Linked DNA regions of Homo sapiens: region 1 is linked to region 2. Evidence: fine-mapped expression QTL. Tissue or cell type: prefrontal cortex. Region 2 holds a variant in brackets; the other region holds the start of a gene. All regions are shown on one strand. Distances are from middle to middle.

Evidence for each region. PIP is the estimated chance that this variant, and not a neighbour inherited with it, causes the effect.
Region 1: SPIRE2 starts here. The variant in region 2 is fine-mapped to the expression of SPIRE2 in prefrontal cortex (GTEx, PIP 0.91).

Annotation. Positions count from the first base shown.
Region 1 is chr16:89,823,782-89,832,295 of GRCh38, reverse strand. SPIRE2 (spire type actin nucleation factor 2) reads right to left here and starts at 3,821. Exons shown (of 15, transcript NM_032451.2): 1 at 3,502-3,821. The coding sequence starts at 3,745. RefSeq lists a silencer at 3,678-3,767.
Region 2 is chr16:89,804,613-89,812,612 of GRCh38, reverse strand. It overlaps FANCA (FA complementation group A), which reads left to right. Exons shown (of 43, transcript NM_000135.4): 4 at 1,542-1,684; 5 at 1,811-1,906; 6 at 4,246-4,319; 7 at 7,221-7,333. Among named protein-coding and RNA genes, the nearest start is that of FANCA, 8.0 kb to the left of the region's middle. RefSeq lists an enhancer at 5,547-6,069. The variant C/T (reference allele first, on the strand shown) is at 4,936.

The DNA.
Region 1 (8,514 bases), 19 kb before region 2:
AGCCCAGATCCAGCGGCAGAACAGGCAGGCTGGCTGCGGGCTCGAGGCCACGGTGCTCCTCGGCAAAGGTGGACTCCAGCACAGACACACAAACGGGCTTCCGTGGGTGAAAAGGATGCCCCTTCACATGGGCCGTAACCATGGGGTGCTTCCTGGGCCCAGAGCCCCTCTCTTGCCTCACGCGGGCACGCGCTGCCATCACTCCGCCTTGAGGAGGAATGGGAGCAAGAAGCTGGGGCCTGCTCATCAGCACGGCGCGGGATGGAGGGAACCAGAGGAGGGAAGAGCTTCGCCCTCTGCAGAGCTCTGGACGTGGACACGGTGCCCCGTGCTGCCTAGATCACTATGGATGTTTCTGTTTAGAACACAGGCCGCGAGATGAACAGGTTGGGAAGGCTTAGACATCTGGGAGTGCGCGGGGCTGCGAAACAGCAGAACCCCAGAGCCAGTGCTCTAAGGGTGCCTTAGAGGCAGATGGCCTGAGAGCCGGGCAGAAGGGGGAGGGGCAGGAGAAAGGGCGGGGGATACCTGGAGGACCAGCAACGTGGGGCATCCTAGCGTAAAGAGCGGGGCCTGCCTGTGAAAAAGTTTAGCATCCAGGCCAGGCGTGGTGGCTTACGCCTGTAATCCCAGCACTTTGGGAGGCCGAGGTGGGCGGATCATGAGGTCAGGAGATCGAGACCATTCTGGCTAACACAGTGAAACCCAGTCTCTACTAAAAATACAAAAAATTAGCCGGGCGTGGTGGCGGGCGCATGTAGTCCCAGCTACTCGGGACGCTGAGGCAGGAGAATGGCGTGAACCCAGTAGGCGAAGCTTGCAGTGAGCCGAGAACGCGCCACTGCACTCCAGCCTGGGCGACAGAGCGAGACTGTCTCATAAAAAAAAAAAAAAAAGAAAGAAAGAAAAAAAGTTTAGCATCCAAAGTTGACAAGAAAAAACATTCAAAAAATAGGGTCACGTGTAAAGTAGCCAATCAGGGTGAAGAGGGCAGGTGACGGAAGGAAGGGCCATCCCACCCACCTTGCACATGGACCACACAGACCCTCATTAGCACCACGTCTGAGATGTATTTGAGAAACCACCCAGCTGGGCGCAGTGGCTCACGCCTGTAATCCCAGCACTTTGGAAGGCCGAGGTGGGCAGATCACGAGGTCAGGAGATCGAGACCATCCTGGCTAACACGGTGAAACCCCGTCTCTACTAAAAATACAAAAAATTAGCCGGGCGTGGTGGCGGGCGCCTGTAGTCCCAGCTACTCGGGAGGCTGAGGCAGGAGAATGGCGTGAACCCGGGAGGTGGAGCTTGCAGTGAGCAGAGATTGTGCCGCTGCACTCCAGCCTGGGCAACAGAGCGAGACTCCCTCTCAAAAAAAAAAAAAAAAAAAGATTCTAAGCAGTTACAAAGTCTTCAGAGTAAAGATTAGGAAGTCTCTTCTAGTCATTTTTTTCCTAATCTTGGCTTGGAAATGAGAAGTATTACTACTTGTGTGCTAAGATAATATTATTCATCCTCCTAAGTATGGTCTAGTTTGTTGTTGGTTTTTTTCAAAGTGGTTTTACACACCTACTGCCCATATTCAGTTTGTGTGAGAGGGTGGGTACTGAAGACCCAAGGTTACAGGTTGAGAAATTCAACTGGAGCAAAAAACTGAGACTACAATGCCAACAAGTGAGATTGGATGTTTTCCTATTGATATCTACAGGGAGAAATAAGTATGCATCTTTTAATGTATTTACTTATCACTTAAGTCCCAGAGAAAGGCTGGGTTAGCCACCTTTGAGGAGACAGCTGGCCTGATGTCTCAGCTGACTCAGAAGCACCACAAGGATGGCACAGAAAGTTCAGGGTAATAGATTTTTCTTAAACCTTCAAGAGAGAGCAAGTCATAAAACTCATTCGCCTTCATGAGACAGGGTTATGAACAGAAAACAAAGATCGTTATCAAATAAAAAATGAACTGGACCACAGGTGGGTACCACCCCCTAAGGTCAACACAGTGCCCTACCTGAACTTTGAACCCCAGCCAGGAACTGCTGCCGGGGCTGTGAGGACCAGGAAGGGGCCACACCACCCAGGGATGGAGGTGGAGAGAATCAGATCACTGCTCTGAGGACGCCTTGCACAGCACCAACAGGAAGCAGGCGGCTGGGCTCCCGCACAGCTAGGACAAATGAGGAGCTCTGGATTCTAACCACCCGGCAAACCACTTACCACTGTGTGCCTCGGTTTCCCCATCTTTACAGTCAGAGGGTCAGACGAACCAGGCTGCCTACAGCCTCCTCCTGCTCTGCACTTATCTCCAGGAATGGGGTGAAGTCCAGGCACCCTTTCACAGAGGCTCTGTGAGCATGCAGCCTCCTGGGCCCCATGCACCTGCCGTCTCACCCCACCCTCTGGGCGGCAGTGGGCACAGCCCTGAGGGACGCCACAGTGAATCTGAACGCTGCCACTGTCTGAGTGCCAGCGCAAGCCTGCGCCTCAGGTTTCTCCAGAGGGAGTAAAACCTCAGGGCCTGCTCTTGCTGTCACCTGTGTGGGATACTGCAAATGGCAGGAGTGTGGAGGCAGCTGAGGGGGGGGCTCCAGGATGAGCAGGACCTGGTGAAGGAACAAGGGCCCTTGGGTGGGGCACAACGGCCCCCACCCCTCGTGGCTCTGTAGCTTGCTTCTGTCTGGCCTTGCCCTGGCCCTTCCTGGTCCTCCACATAGGCCTGCTCATGCAAACCCACAGCTCTCAGGCCTGGAGAGAGTGCGGCAAACACACAGCCTGCCTCTGCCCCCCGGCAGGGTACCAGCTTTTGGGGTCATATCACATGCTCCAAGCCAGCACTCCAGCTCTCCAGGGAAGAAATCACTTTCGGTTTTTTTCGTAAAGGGTAAATAATCACTTAAGCTCACCATTCTCACTAACTTCAAGTATCTTTCTAGGGCTTAATTGTTGGTTCTGGTTGATGGTTAAGAATAGAAACACCAAGCAGGTTGTCCCCCCAACTTTACACACCCCTTCCTCTCCCAGTTAAACCCAGGAATTTAGTGTCAGTTCAGACGCCAAGTGAGGCGCAGCCCCCCACCTTCCACCCAGGAGAAAATGCCCCAAGGGGACGCTTCTGTCTCCTTTCCTGCTGAAGGCAGGGGAGGAGTCGCCCCAGCAAAGGCCAGCTCCGTGCTCCCTGAGCCACCGGCCCAAGTCCCTCTCCCGGAGGAAGCCAGGCCACTGGGGAGCAGCCCGCTCCGCGCTGGGAGAGGCGTCAGGTGGGGGGGTCCGGGAGGGGAACGTCCAGGGCCGGGGAGGGAGAGGAAGGAGGGAGAGAAGGAGGGAGGAAAGAGAGAGGGAAAGAGGGACGGAGAGTGGGAGGGAGGGAGCTCCGGGTCCCGCAGAGAAGGGGATCTCCCGCTCCAGAACCGGTCGCAGCCTCTCCGCCGGGACCACCCCCACCCAGGGGGCGGGACGGACGCCCCAGACCGCGGTCCCCGCCGGCTGCCCCGCCCCCGGCCTCACCCGCGGCCTCGGGCTCCCGCGCCCCGACCGAGCCGTCCCCGCGCAGCAGGAGGTCCCCGGTATCCCGCAGGCGCCGGCCCGGCGAGCCCCGCAGCCCGCGGCAGCCCTGGAAGCACACGGCCCACGCCTGCTCCTCGTTGAGCGGCTGCTCGTAGGCCTTCAGCACCTCCTCCAGGGACAGCTCCCAGGGCTCCGGCCGCCCTGCGCCCGCCGCGGCGCCGCCGCAGCTGCCCGCCCGGGCCATGGCGGGGCCGTCATCGCCTCCCGCGCGCCGGACCCGCGTCCATGCAGCCGCGCCTTCCGCCGCGCAGGGTCAGCCTGGCCGCCCCGCCCCGCGCGAGCGCCTCAGGTTGGGGGCGGGGCGGCGACGGGGGCGGGGCGCGGAGGGCGCGGGGGGCGGGGCGCGGAGGGGGAGGGACGCGGGGCGGGGCGGGGAGTGGAGGGCGCGCGGGGAGAGGCCCGGAGGGGGACGGGTGAGGGGCAGGGCGGGGCGCGGGTAGGTGCGGAGGGGCTGGGGCTCAGGGCTGGGGACGCGGGGGCGCGGGGCCGAGGCCGGGGTGCGAACCCCTCCGGGGTGCTGGGCAGGACCGGGGGGAGGGTTGGGGGCTGCAGACATGGGCCAGGGCCCGCGCGCTCGGACACGCGGTGACACCCCCGGCGCTCCCCCGCAGACCCAGACGGCCGATGCCCACAAAAGCCCGGGCCGGCATCCAGCCCGGGACACTGCGGTGACCGCGGGGGGCCTGGGAGGTTTGCCGCTGGGAACGCGGGAGGGAGCCGGGAGGAGCTGAGCAGACAAAGCCCGCAGTGGCCTCCCCGAGCCCCGGGCAAGGTGACCTCCAGGGGTTGTCGCAGGGTGGCTGGGGTGAGGGCGACTCCCCGCATCCGGCCTTCGGGTATGAAGCCCTTAATAAATGCCTCTGCCTAGCAGGGAATGTGCCTGCAGTGACGTCTCCAGGGTGTCCGTGAAAAATAAACACACACGGTTGGCCAGTGATGGCGTGCATCGCATTTGGGGCGTGTTTGTGTCTTCAGGCCGGGTCACTCCTGGACACTGGGTGTTTGCCTGAGGGACGCAAGGGGAACTCGGCTGGGGCTCATCCCGAGGCCTCTTCATAGTTGTGCCAGATCTGAATAAGTGGGCAAGAAAATGCAGTTGGGGCATAAACGGTCCCAAGCCTGGGTGCTGCCAGTACCACCCGGGGGCAAGAAATGCAGATTCCTGGGCTCCAGGGCTGGAGATTCTGATGCAGGTCCGAGGTGAAACTTGGGGCACTTAAAGTTCGCTGGTCTCCCAGGAGTTCTGGACCTGCCTGGACAACACAGTGAGATCCCATCCCAGAAAAGAAGTTCCACAATGATTTTTTTTTCTTTTTTTTTTTTTAGAGACAAGGTCTCACCCAGGCTGAAGTGCAATGGTACAATCGTAGCTCACTATAACCTCAAATTCCTGGGGTCAAGTGATCCTCCCACGTCAGCTTCCTGAGTAGATGGGACTAAAGGCATGAACCACCACGCCCAGCTGATTGTTTTTATTTTTTGTGGAGATGGGATCTCACCATGTTGCCCAGGCTGGTCTTGAATTCCTGGGCTCAAGCAGTCAGGCCACCTTGGTCTCCCAAAGTACTGGGATTACAAGCGTGAGCAACCGCGCCCAGTCCAGCTGGACTTTTCTTTTCTTTCCCTTTCTTTTTTTTTTTTTTGAGAAGGAGTTTTGCTCTTATCGCCCAGGCTGGAGTGCAGTGGCGCAACCTTGGCTCACTGCAACCTCTACCTCCCAGATTCAAGCGTTTCTCCTGCCTCAGCCTCAAAGTAGCTGGAACTACAGGCGCCCACCACCACACCCGGGTAATTTTTTGGGTGGTTTCGCCATGTCGGCCAGGCCGGTCTCGAAATCCTGACCTCAGGTGATCCCCCTGCCTCAGCCTCCCAGGGTGCTGGGGTTGCAGGCATGAGCCATGTCGTCCCGTCCAGCTGGACTTTTCATCTGTAAGCAGAAAGGAGGCTGATGATGACGAATTGTGCCTAAAGTTTGTTTGTTTGTTTGTTTTGAGGCAGAGTCGCGCTCTGTTGCCCAGGCTAGAGTGCAGTGACGCGATCTCTGCTCACTGCAAGCTCCCCTCCCAGGTTTACGCCATTCTCCTGCCTCAGCCTCCTGAGTAGCTGAGACTACAGGCGCCTGCCACCACGCCCAGCTAATTTTTTGTATTTTTTTAGTAGAGACGGGGTTTCACTGTATTAGCTAGGATGGTCTCAATCTCCTGACCTCATGATCCGCCCGCCTCGGCCTCTCAAAGTGCTGGGATTACAGGCATGAGCCACTGTGCCCAGCCATGCCTAAAGTTTTTATAATCAACAGCGGGGCAACATTCACATCTTTTGTTGGTTCCCCAAGCTAAAACACAACCAAAAGTAACAGGAGTGGGCTGGGCACGGTGGCTCATGCCTGTAATCCCAGCACTTTGGGAGGCCGAGGCAACCCGATGGCTTGAACCCAGGAGTTCGAGACCTGCCAGGGCAACATGAGACCCTATCGCTACAAAACTTTAAAAACATTAGCCAGGTGTGGAGGTGTGTGCCGGTGGTCCCAGCTACTTGGGAGGGTAAGGCAGGAGGACCACTTGAGCCTGGGAGGTCGAGGTTGCAGTGCGCTGTGATTGCACCACTGCACTCCAGCCTGGGTGACGGTGAGACCCTGTCTCTAGTAAATAGATGCATAAAGACTAATAGGCGCAGTGGGGTTTTGCAGAAGGAAAATTGGAGATGAGCGGGGTGGGGATGGGGTGCCATGCCCTGAATACCATGTACCACAAACCTGGCACTCAAGCAGATCTCCCCTCCTGATTTGTCCCTGCCACCCGCAGCATGGGTACCAACGATGGGTAAGTTAGGAATTTCAAGTTCTGGCTTAGAAGAGCAACAGCAGAAAACCTTCCATGAGGCATCTTATTCCACAGGAGCAGCACGCTCTACATTCGTGGTAACCAAAGTCCCTGGCCCACACACTGCCAGGTGTGTGATGATGGGGAATTGTTCTCTGCTGATGTCTGAGGCTGATCCTTGGTCCCACACACAGGGTGGTTTCTCCCTTCAGAATGCACGGGGATAAAGACTTCCATTTGTGGCCGAGCGCGGTGGCTCACTCCTGTAATCCCAGCACTTTGGGAGGCCGAGGCGGATGGATCAAGAGGTCAGGAGATTGAGACTATCCTGGCTAACATGGTGAAACCCGTCTCTACTAAAAAACACAAAAAATTAGCCAGGAGTGGTGTCGGGTGCCTGTAGTTCCAGATACTGGGGAGGCTAAAGCAGGAGAATGGCGTGAACCCAGGAGGCGGAGCTTGCAGTGAGCCGAGATCGCGCCACTGCACTCCAGCCTGGGCGACAGAGCGAGACTCCATCTCAAAAATAAAAAAAGAAAAAAAAAAAGACTTCCATTTGCAACACCCCACTGAGTAGGTCTCACTGCTTCTTGCCAGAAGTCAAGGTGGGGGACATTGCTCTCACCACGACTGGCCACCACCCCAGAGCACTCTTTGGACGTGCAGCCTCATCACTGCCACAGTGCAGCACTGGCCGGGGACATTTGAGCAGAAGATGGTAATTACCCTAATGGGAAGCTGGCTGGGGCACAAGGGGACCTTCTCTCTTCCTCAAAGGGCCTCACGTGTCCCTTACCGACCACAAGGTTTTAGGGTGTAATTTGTGAGCTCAGTCCTCCAGCCACTGCTGCATCCTGGCAAGGACCTAGTGCTGACTCACCTGGCTGAACAGTGACCCTTGAGGTCACGTGAGTGGGGTACAGTGACCCTCTCTGAACTGGCATCCACCATCCTACCTGGGATCCCTATGGACTCACCAGCAGGACTTAGAACACTGAGATTTTAGTAAAAAATTTTAAAAGTTAGGGCTGGGCACGGTGGCTCAAGCCTGTAATCCCAGCACTTTGGGAGGCCAAGGGGGCAGATCACGAGGTCAGGAGTTCCAGACCAGCCTGGCCAATATGGTGAAACCCCATCTCTACTAGAAAAATAATTAAAAAAAAAAAAATTAGCAGGGCGTGGTGGCACATGCCTATAATCCCAGCTACTCGGGAGGCTGAGGCAGAAGAATTGCTTGAACCCAGGAGGCGGAGGTCGCAGTGAGCCGAGATCGCACCACTGCACTCCAGCCTGGGAAACAGAGCAAGACTCCATCTCAAAAAAAATAAAAAGAAATAAAACATGGCCGGGCATGGTGGCTCACACCTGTAATCCCAGCACTTTGGGAGGCCGAGGCAGGCAGATCACAAGGTCAGGAGATCAAGGCCATCCTGGCCAACACGGTGAAACCCCATCTCTACTAAAAATACAAAAGGCCAGGCACAGTGGCTCACGCCTGTAATCCCAGCACTTTGGGAGGCTGAGGCGGGCAGATCACGAGGTCAGGAGATCGAGACCATCCTGGCTAGCACGGTGAAACCCTGTCTCTACTAAAAATACAAAAAAATTAGCCGGGCGTGGTGGGGGGGTGCCTGTAGTCCCAGCTACTCGGGAGGCTGAGGCAGGAGAATGCCGTGAACCTGGGAGGTGGAGCTTGCAGTGAGCCAAGATTGCGCCACTGCATTGCAGCCTGGGCGACAGAGCGAGACTCTGTCTCAAAAAATAAATAAATAAAAAATAAAAATAAAAATACAAAAATTAGCTGGGCATGGTGGCACATGCCTGTAGTCCCAGCTACTCAGGAGGGTGAGGCAGGACAATCGCCTGAATCCAGGAGGCGGAGGTTGCAGTGAGCCGAGATCACACCACTGCACTCCAGCCTGGTGACACAGTGAGACTCTGTCTCAAAAAACAAACAAACAGAAAAAGGGACTCAACGAGAAGCACTGTAGAGATTGATGTAGGTCAGTCATTAAGTCAGCTTGGAAAGCTTTAGAGCAGGGGTGTCCAATCTTTTGGCTTCCCTGGACCACACTGGAAGACGAATTGTCTTGAGCCACACGTAAAATACACTAACAATAGCTCTGTGCAT
Region 2 (8,000 bases):
GTGCAATGGTGTGATCTCGACTCACCGCAACCTCTGCCTCCCTAGTTAAAGTGATTCTCCTGCCTCAGCCTCCTGAGTAGCTGGTATTACAGGCATGCACCACCACGCCTGGCTAATTTTGTATTTTTAGTAGAGATAGGGTTTCACCATGTTGGTCAGGCTGGTCTCAAACTCCCGACCTCAGGTGATCCACCCGCCTCGGCCTCCCAAAGTGCTGGGATTACAGGAGGGACCCACTGAGCCTGGCCTCCAGTTTTTTTTTGTTTTGTTTTTTTGAGATGAAGTCTGGCTCTGTCGCCCAGACTGCAGTGTAGTGGCGTGATCTCGGCTCACTGCAAACTCCGCCTCCTGGGTTCACGCCATTCTTCGCCTCAGCCTCCTGAGTAGCTGGGACTACAGGCTCCCGTCACCAAACCTGGCTAATTTTGTTTTTGTGTCTTTAGTAGAGACAGGGTTTCACCGTGTTAGCCAGGATGGTCTCGATCTCCTGACCTTGTAATCCGCCCGCCTCGGCCTCCCAAAGTGCTGGGATTACAGGCGTGAGCCACCGTGCCCGGCCCGGTTTCTTTAAACAATTAATTTTGGCTCACGTGGTGGCTCACACCTGTAATCCCAGCAGTATGGGAGGCCGAGGCGGGCGGATTAATGAGGTTGGGAATTGGAGACGAGCCTAGCCAACATAGTGAAACCCCATCTCTACTAAAAATACAAAAAATTAACTGGGCGTAGTGACGCGTGCCTGTAATCCCAGCTACTTGGGAGGCTGAGGCAGGAGAATCGCTTGAACCTGAGAGGCGGAGGTTGCAGTGAGCTGAGATGGCGCCGTTGCACTTCAGTCCAGGCGGCAGTGTAAGACACCATTGCAAAAAAATAAAACAAAAAAAAATTAATTTTGGAAGACAAATAAATTAGAAAATGATTTCTTGGCATTGCCTGCTTCCAGGTTGCCCACCGTTTCTCACTTTATTGAATGCAGACCAGTGGCTGGTTGCTCAGGAGAATGGTGGCTGCCTGCAGGCTGTTAGTGAGGTTCCACTTGGTGGCCTGCGGACTGAGCACAGCTGTGACTGCACCTGCCCACCAGGTGCATGGCAGAATGTTGGGAAATCCCTGCCTAATTTTATCACAACCATCAATGTGAGTCAACAGGGGCAGGCTTATCTCTGAAGTAATTAGAAAAACAATGTAATTGAAAGAGCCTGCTGCAGTTCTCAATTTATTGTGCTCCTTTGTAAAAAGATGATAAAGTTCTTGGTCAGAATATATTTCTTTATCTTGCTCCTTTTGTGTCATGGGAAACGTAACAAATACCAATGTATAACTCTGGGTTCAGGTGTTGCCACCAGTTTTATTGTGAGCTGCTTGGATCATCAAATTCTCATTTTTATCTCATGTTTTTCCCTTTGCATCTATTCTCCCCGTTTAAAAGGCAATTTTTTTTGTGCTGCATCTTAAAATAAGGCATTTTAAACAGCAAGTCTTTGGTTTTAGATTTTGTCTCATGTGTTAAGAGAAAGCTATGGTTTTGTTTTGTGTTTAAGGCTCTGCTTTGCAGGATCAAGCCTCAAGGCTGGGGGTTCCCGTGGGTATTCTCTCAGCCGGGATGGTTGCCTCTAGCGTGGGACAGATCTGCACGGCTCCAGCGGAGACCAGTCACCCTGTGCTGCTGACTGTGGAGCAGAGAGTAAGACACCAGCAAAGATGAGGAAACCTGCCCGTTGTTACTTTTAAGCTGGTTGGGAAAATAGGACATAGCTTTAGTATTGTTTCAGGTAATTTGTTTTTTAAAAAATGTAATCTCTCTTTTCAGAAGAAGCTGTCTTCCCTGTTAGAGTTTGCTCAGTATTTATTGGCACACAGTATGTTCTCCCGTCTTTCCTTCTGTCAAGAATTATGGAAAATACAGGTAAATTTGAGATTGCAAATCTGACTCTCCAGTGTTCCAGGCAATGTTCTGTTGATCTGGATGGAGGCAACAGAGTACCTGGGTTTTCTTGGGAATTCTCCAAGCTTCTCATTAATTACAGAGAGTGGATGAAAAAGGGTTTAGAAATCATCTGTGGATTGGAAAGAAGTACCTTCAATTGCCATTTTTTGTCCCTATTCACCTATCATTAGTAATATTTATTAGACTAGAATATATTGAAAAACACGTTTAGCCTTGGGTATATTAGTATGGAGAATTTTCCAGGGTAGTATAGTAAACTATTAAAAAAAAATGTATGTAATTTTTTTTTCCAGAGACAGGGTCTCGCCTTGTTGCCCAGGCTGGTCTTTTTTTTTTTTTTTTGAGACGAAGTCTCGCTCTGTCGCACAGGCTGGAGTGCAGTGGCGTGATCTTGGCTCACTGCAAGCCCCACCTCCCAGGTTCACGCCATTCTCCTGCCTCAGCCTCCCGAGTAGCTGGGACTACAGGTGACTGCCACCACGCCCAGCTAATTTTTTGTATTTTTTAGCAGAGACGGGGTTTCACCGTGTTAGCCAGGATGGTCTCGATCTCCTGACCTCGTGATCTGCCCACCTCGGCCTCCCAAAGTGCTGGGATTACAAGTGTGAGCCACCGCGCCTGGCATTTATTTTTATTTTTGAGACAGAATATTGCTCTGCCGCCCAGGCTGGAGTGCAGTGGCGCAATCTTGGCTCACTGCAACGTCTGCCTCCCAGGTTCAAGCGATTGTCCTGCCTCAGCCACCTTAGTAGCTGGGATTACAGGCGCGTGCCACCATGCCCAGTTAATTTTTGTATCTTTTTTTTTTTTTGAGATGGAGTTTTGCTCTTGTTGCCCAGGCTGGAGTGCAATGGTGCTATCTTGGCTTATCGCAACGTCCGCCTCCCGGGTTCACGCCATTCTCCCGCCTCAGCCTCCCGAGTAGCTGGGATTACAGGCATGCGCCACCATGCCTGGCTAATTTTTTTTGTATTTTTAGTAGAGACGGGGTTTCTCCATGTTGGTCAGGCTGGTCTCAAACTCCTGACCTCAGATGATCTGCCCACCTCGGCCTCCCAAAGTGCCGGGATTACAGGTGTGAGTCACCGCGCCCTGCCCAATTTTTGTATCTTTAGTAGAGATGAGGTTTCACCATGTTGGCCAGGCTGGTCTTCAATTCCTGACCTCAGGTGATCTGCCCATCTTGGCCTCCCAAGTGCTGGGATTACAGGTGTGAGCCACTGCGTCCGGCCTTTCCCATTCTTTTATCCAGCATACATTATAGAATTCATTAGATTTTTCAGTTATTGCTTTGGTCCCTGCCCTCATTATCACGTAGCTTGGGAAACAAGCCACTAAATCCACAAGAAGTGCGATGATTCATGTGCTCACAGATTTGCGAAGAAGATGTTGGACATGCATATCAGATTGGAGAGTTAGGAAAGCCTTCCTGCACGGACTGTGAAGAGTGCGAGTTAGGGGCCGGGCCCAGTGGCTCACACCTGTAATCCCAGCACTTTGGGAGGCCGAGGCAGGTGGATCATGAGGTCAGGAGATCGAGCCCATCCTGGCTAACACGGTGAAACCCCGTCTCTACTAAAAAATAGAAAAAATTAGCCGGGTGTGGTGGCAGGCACCTGTAGTCCCAGCTACTCAGGAGGCTGAGGCAGGAGAATGGCGTGAACCCGGGAGGCAGAGCTTACAGTGACCCGAGATGGCGCCACTGCACTCCAGCCTGGGTGACAGAGCGCGACTCTGTCTCAAAAAAAAAAAAATAGAGTGTGAGTTAGGGGGATGAGAAGGGGAGGCTGCAGGGAGATCAGGGCAGTGTGACAGGCACAGTGTTCACAGTGAGTGGCTAAAGCAGATCCTGTTTTATCAAATGGGAGAGGGTTGAGTGAGAAAGACAAGGGACATGCACAGGGCACACTGAAGCCTGACCTTTGTCCTGGCAGCTTCGAGGAGCCAGTGAAGGCTTCTGAAGGAGAGACTGTCATGTCAGTGTGTGTAATACTGTGTTGGCTGTAGTGTGGAGAAAGGGTTAGAAGTAGGCTACAGTGCGTAGGAAGAGAGAAGGAAGAGAAGCAAGTGTTGGGCAACGGTGTGTGGGTGCCCAAAGGCCAGGGAGTTTGAAAACCAGTACAGCTTTGTAAAAAAAGATGTGTTTCAGGCTCTAAGTTTTTGCTTGAGGTTAATTTTCAATACGGCATGGTTAAGAACCTAAGTTGAACATTTTGTAGGAAAATGCATTCATAAAGGACTCAGAATGCTGGGGGTTTTTTTGTTTTTGTTTTTGTTTGTTTTGTTTTGTTTTTCAGAGTTCTTTGTTGCTTGAAGCGGTGTGGCATCTTCACGTACAAGGCATTGTGAGCCTGCAAGAGCTGCTGGAAAGGTAGCGTGCTAATGATGATTCAGTGTTACTGTTTTTGCAGTCTAGTCTAGTATAAATTATATTTCAAAGCCCAGAATCAGACGGGTTTGATTTCTGGCTTTGACATATAATTTGTACTAGACTAGATTGCATTGCATATTTATACTAGACTAGACCTGGAGGAACTATTGCTTTATTATTTCAAGAGAACGTTTATGGTGTTTTGGTTTTGTTTGCTTTTTGTCTGTTTTTTTTTTGAGACGGAGTCTCGCTCTGTGGCCCAGGTGGGAGTGCAGTGGCACGATTTCAGCTCACTACAACCTCCACCTCCAGGGTTCAAGCAATTCTCCTGCCTCAGCCTCCCAAGTCGCTGGGATTACAGGCGCCCGCCACCACACGCAGCTAATTTTTGTTATGTATTTATTTTTTTTAGGGACAGAGTCTCGTTCTGTCACCCAGGCTGGAGTGCAGTGACGTGATGTCGGCTCACTGCAGGCTCCACCTCCCGGGTTCACGCCATTCTCCTGCCTCAGCTTCCCGAGTAGCTGGGACTACAGGCGTCCGCCACCACGCCTGGCTAATTTTTGTATTTTTAGTAGAGACTGGGTTTCACCATGTTAGCCAGGATGGGCTCCAT[C/T]TCCTGACTTCAGGATCTGCCCGCCTCTGCCTCCCAAAGCGCTGGGATTACAGGCATGAACCACTGTGCCTGGCAATTTTTGTTATTTTTAGTAGAGATGTGGTTTCGCCATGTTAGCCAGGCTGGTGTCAAACTCCTAACCTCAGGTGATTCCCCTGCCTCGGCCTCCCAAAGTGCTGGGATTACAGGCATGAGCCACCTCGCGCGGCCTTTTTTTTTCTTTTTGAGACAGAGACCTGCTATGTCGCCAGGCTGGAGTGCAGTGGTGAGATCTGGGCTCGCTGCAACCTCCGCTTCCCGGATTCAAGCAATTCTGCCCCTGCCTCCTCAGTAGCTGGGACTACAGGCGCGTGCCACCACACCCGGCTAATTTTTGTATGTTTAGTAGAGATGGGGTTTCACCATGTTGGCTAGGCTGGTCTCGAACTCCTGATCTTGTGATCCTCCCGCCTCGGCCTAGAGCAGAATTTCATCTCAAAAAAAAAAAAAAAAAGAAAAACCTGCTTCCTAGGATATACACATCTTATCTCAGCACCAAAATCTATGAAGCAAAAATGGCCAGAATTAAAGGGAGAAGTAGACATTTCAGCAATAATCATTAGAGGTTTCAATACTCCCCTTTCAGTAATGGGTAGAACAAGTTAGATTAAGAATGATATAGAACAGCCGCCCCGTCCGGGAGGGAGGTGGGGGAGTCAGCCCCCCGCCCGGCCAGCCGCCCTGTCCAGGAGGTGAGGGGCGCCTCTGCCCGGCCGCCCATACTGGGAAGTGAGGAGCCCCTCTACCCGGCCACCACCCCGTCTGGGAGGTGTACCCAACAGCTCATTGAGAACGGGCCATGATGACAATGGCGGTTTTATGGAATACAAAGGGGGGAAGGGTGGGGAAAAGATTGCGAAATCAGATGGTTGCTGTGTCTGTGTAGAAAGAAGTAGACACGGGAGACTTTTCATTTTGTTCTGTACTAAGAGAAATTCTTCTGCCTTGGGATCCTGTTGATCTGTGACCTTGCCCCCAACCCTGTGCTCTCTGAAACATGTGCTGTGTCCACTCAGGGTTAAATGGATTAAGGGCGGTGCAAGATATGCTTTGTTAAACAGATGCTTGAAGGCAGCATGCTCGTTAAGAGTCATCACCACTCCCTAATCTCAAGTACCCAGGGACACAAACACTGCAGAAGGCCTCAGGGTCCTCTGCCTAGGAAAACCAGAGACCTTTGTTCACTTGTTTATCTGCTGACCTTCCCTCCACCATTGTCCTATGACCCTGCCAAATCCCCCTCTGCGAGAAACACCCAAGAATGATCAATTAAAAAAAAAAAAAAAAAAAAGAATGATATAGAAGTTGAATGCTGCAAACCAGCTGACCTGACTGACTGTGGAGCACTCTACCCAGTAGTAGCAGAGTGTGTATTCGTAAGTCCAAATGGAACAGTCCCCAGGATACAGCATAAGGTTCAGGCCAAGGCCAGGTGCGGTGGCTCACACCTGTAATCCCAGCACTTTGGGAGGCTGAGGCGGGCAGATCACCTGAGGTCAGGAGTTCAAGACCAGCCTGTCCAACGTGGTGAAACCCTGTCTCTACTAAAATTACAAAAATTAGCTGGGCAAGGTGGCAGGTGCCTGTAATCCCAGCCGTTGTGGAGGCTGAGGCAGGAGAATCGCTTGAACTTGGGAGGCGGAGGTTGTAGTGAGCTGAGATTGTGCCATTGCACTCCAGCCTGGATGACAAGAGCAAAACTGTTTCAAGAGAAAAAAAAAAGGTTCAGGCCATAAAACAAAGAGGAATAAATTTAGAAGGGCTGAAATCATTCAAAATATGTTCTCTAACCACAAATGAATTTAATTAGAATAAACAACAGAAGGGAATTGGGAAAATCCACAATATTTGAAAGTTAACATAATGAGTCAAAGAAGTCACAAGGGAAATTAGAAAATAACTTGAGACTGGGCACAGTGCCACACCAGTCATCCCAGCACTTTGGGAGGGCAAGGTGGGAGATTGTTTTGAGCCCGGGAGTTTGAGTCCAGCCTGGGCAAAGTAGTAAGACCTCCAGCTGGGCGTGGTGGTATGCGCCTGTTGTCCCAACTACTCAGGAGGCTGAGGTGGAAGGATTGCTTGAGCCTGGGAGGTCGAGGGTGCAGTGACTGATTGCGCCACTGCACTCCAGCCTCAGTGACAGCAAAAAACTGTCTCAAAAAAAAAATTGGGACATATGGCTCAACTCAATCCCCTGATGATGGGATTTAGTTGAGCCTTACGTCTGCCTCTGTGTGTGTCTCCAGCCATCCCGACATGCATGCTGTGGGATCGTGGCTCTTCAGGAATCTGTGCTGCCTTTGTGAACAGATGGAAGCATCCTGCCAGCATGCTGACGTCGCCAGGGCCATGCTTTCTGGTGCGTTCATGACAAGATGCGGGTTCTTGGGTAAAACTCATTTTGATCTGTGATAATGCCTTCTGCTCTCAAGAGCTCTGCGAGGCAGAACAGCCTGTCTCTCCGTGGCCGTGGGAACCTGGCATGACAGACTCCCAGTCTCAGCCTGTTGTGGGGTTGCATTTTACTTGACTGATGTGGAAATACTAGTAAGTCGGCCTTGACATGAGTTTAAGTGTTTCCATTCACCTTTCCCATAGAGTGACCGCAGCTGCTTCCTTCTGTCGCCCAGGCTGGAGTACAGTGGCGCGATCTCAGCTCACTGCAACCTCCGCCTCCTGGGTTCAAGTGATTCTCTGCCTCAACCTCCTTAGTAGCTGGGACTGCAGGCACGTGGCACCATGCCCGGCTAATTTTTTTTTTGTATTTTTAGTAGAGACGGGGTTTCATTAGGTTGGCCAGGCTGCTCTTGAACTCCTGACCTCGTGATGCACCCCCCTCGGCCTCCCAAAGTGCTGGGATTATAGGCGTGAGCCACTATGCCTGGCCTTCCTGAGGAATGATATTATGAGAAAAACTTGGGACTGTAATGTCCCCCCACAAACTAAGAAGGTGCTGAGAGACCAGAGGATGGCTCAGACTAGGGACCAACCCAGTTTGAGGAGTAGTTGGGTTTGTCAGAAGATGG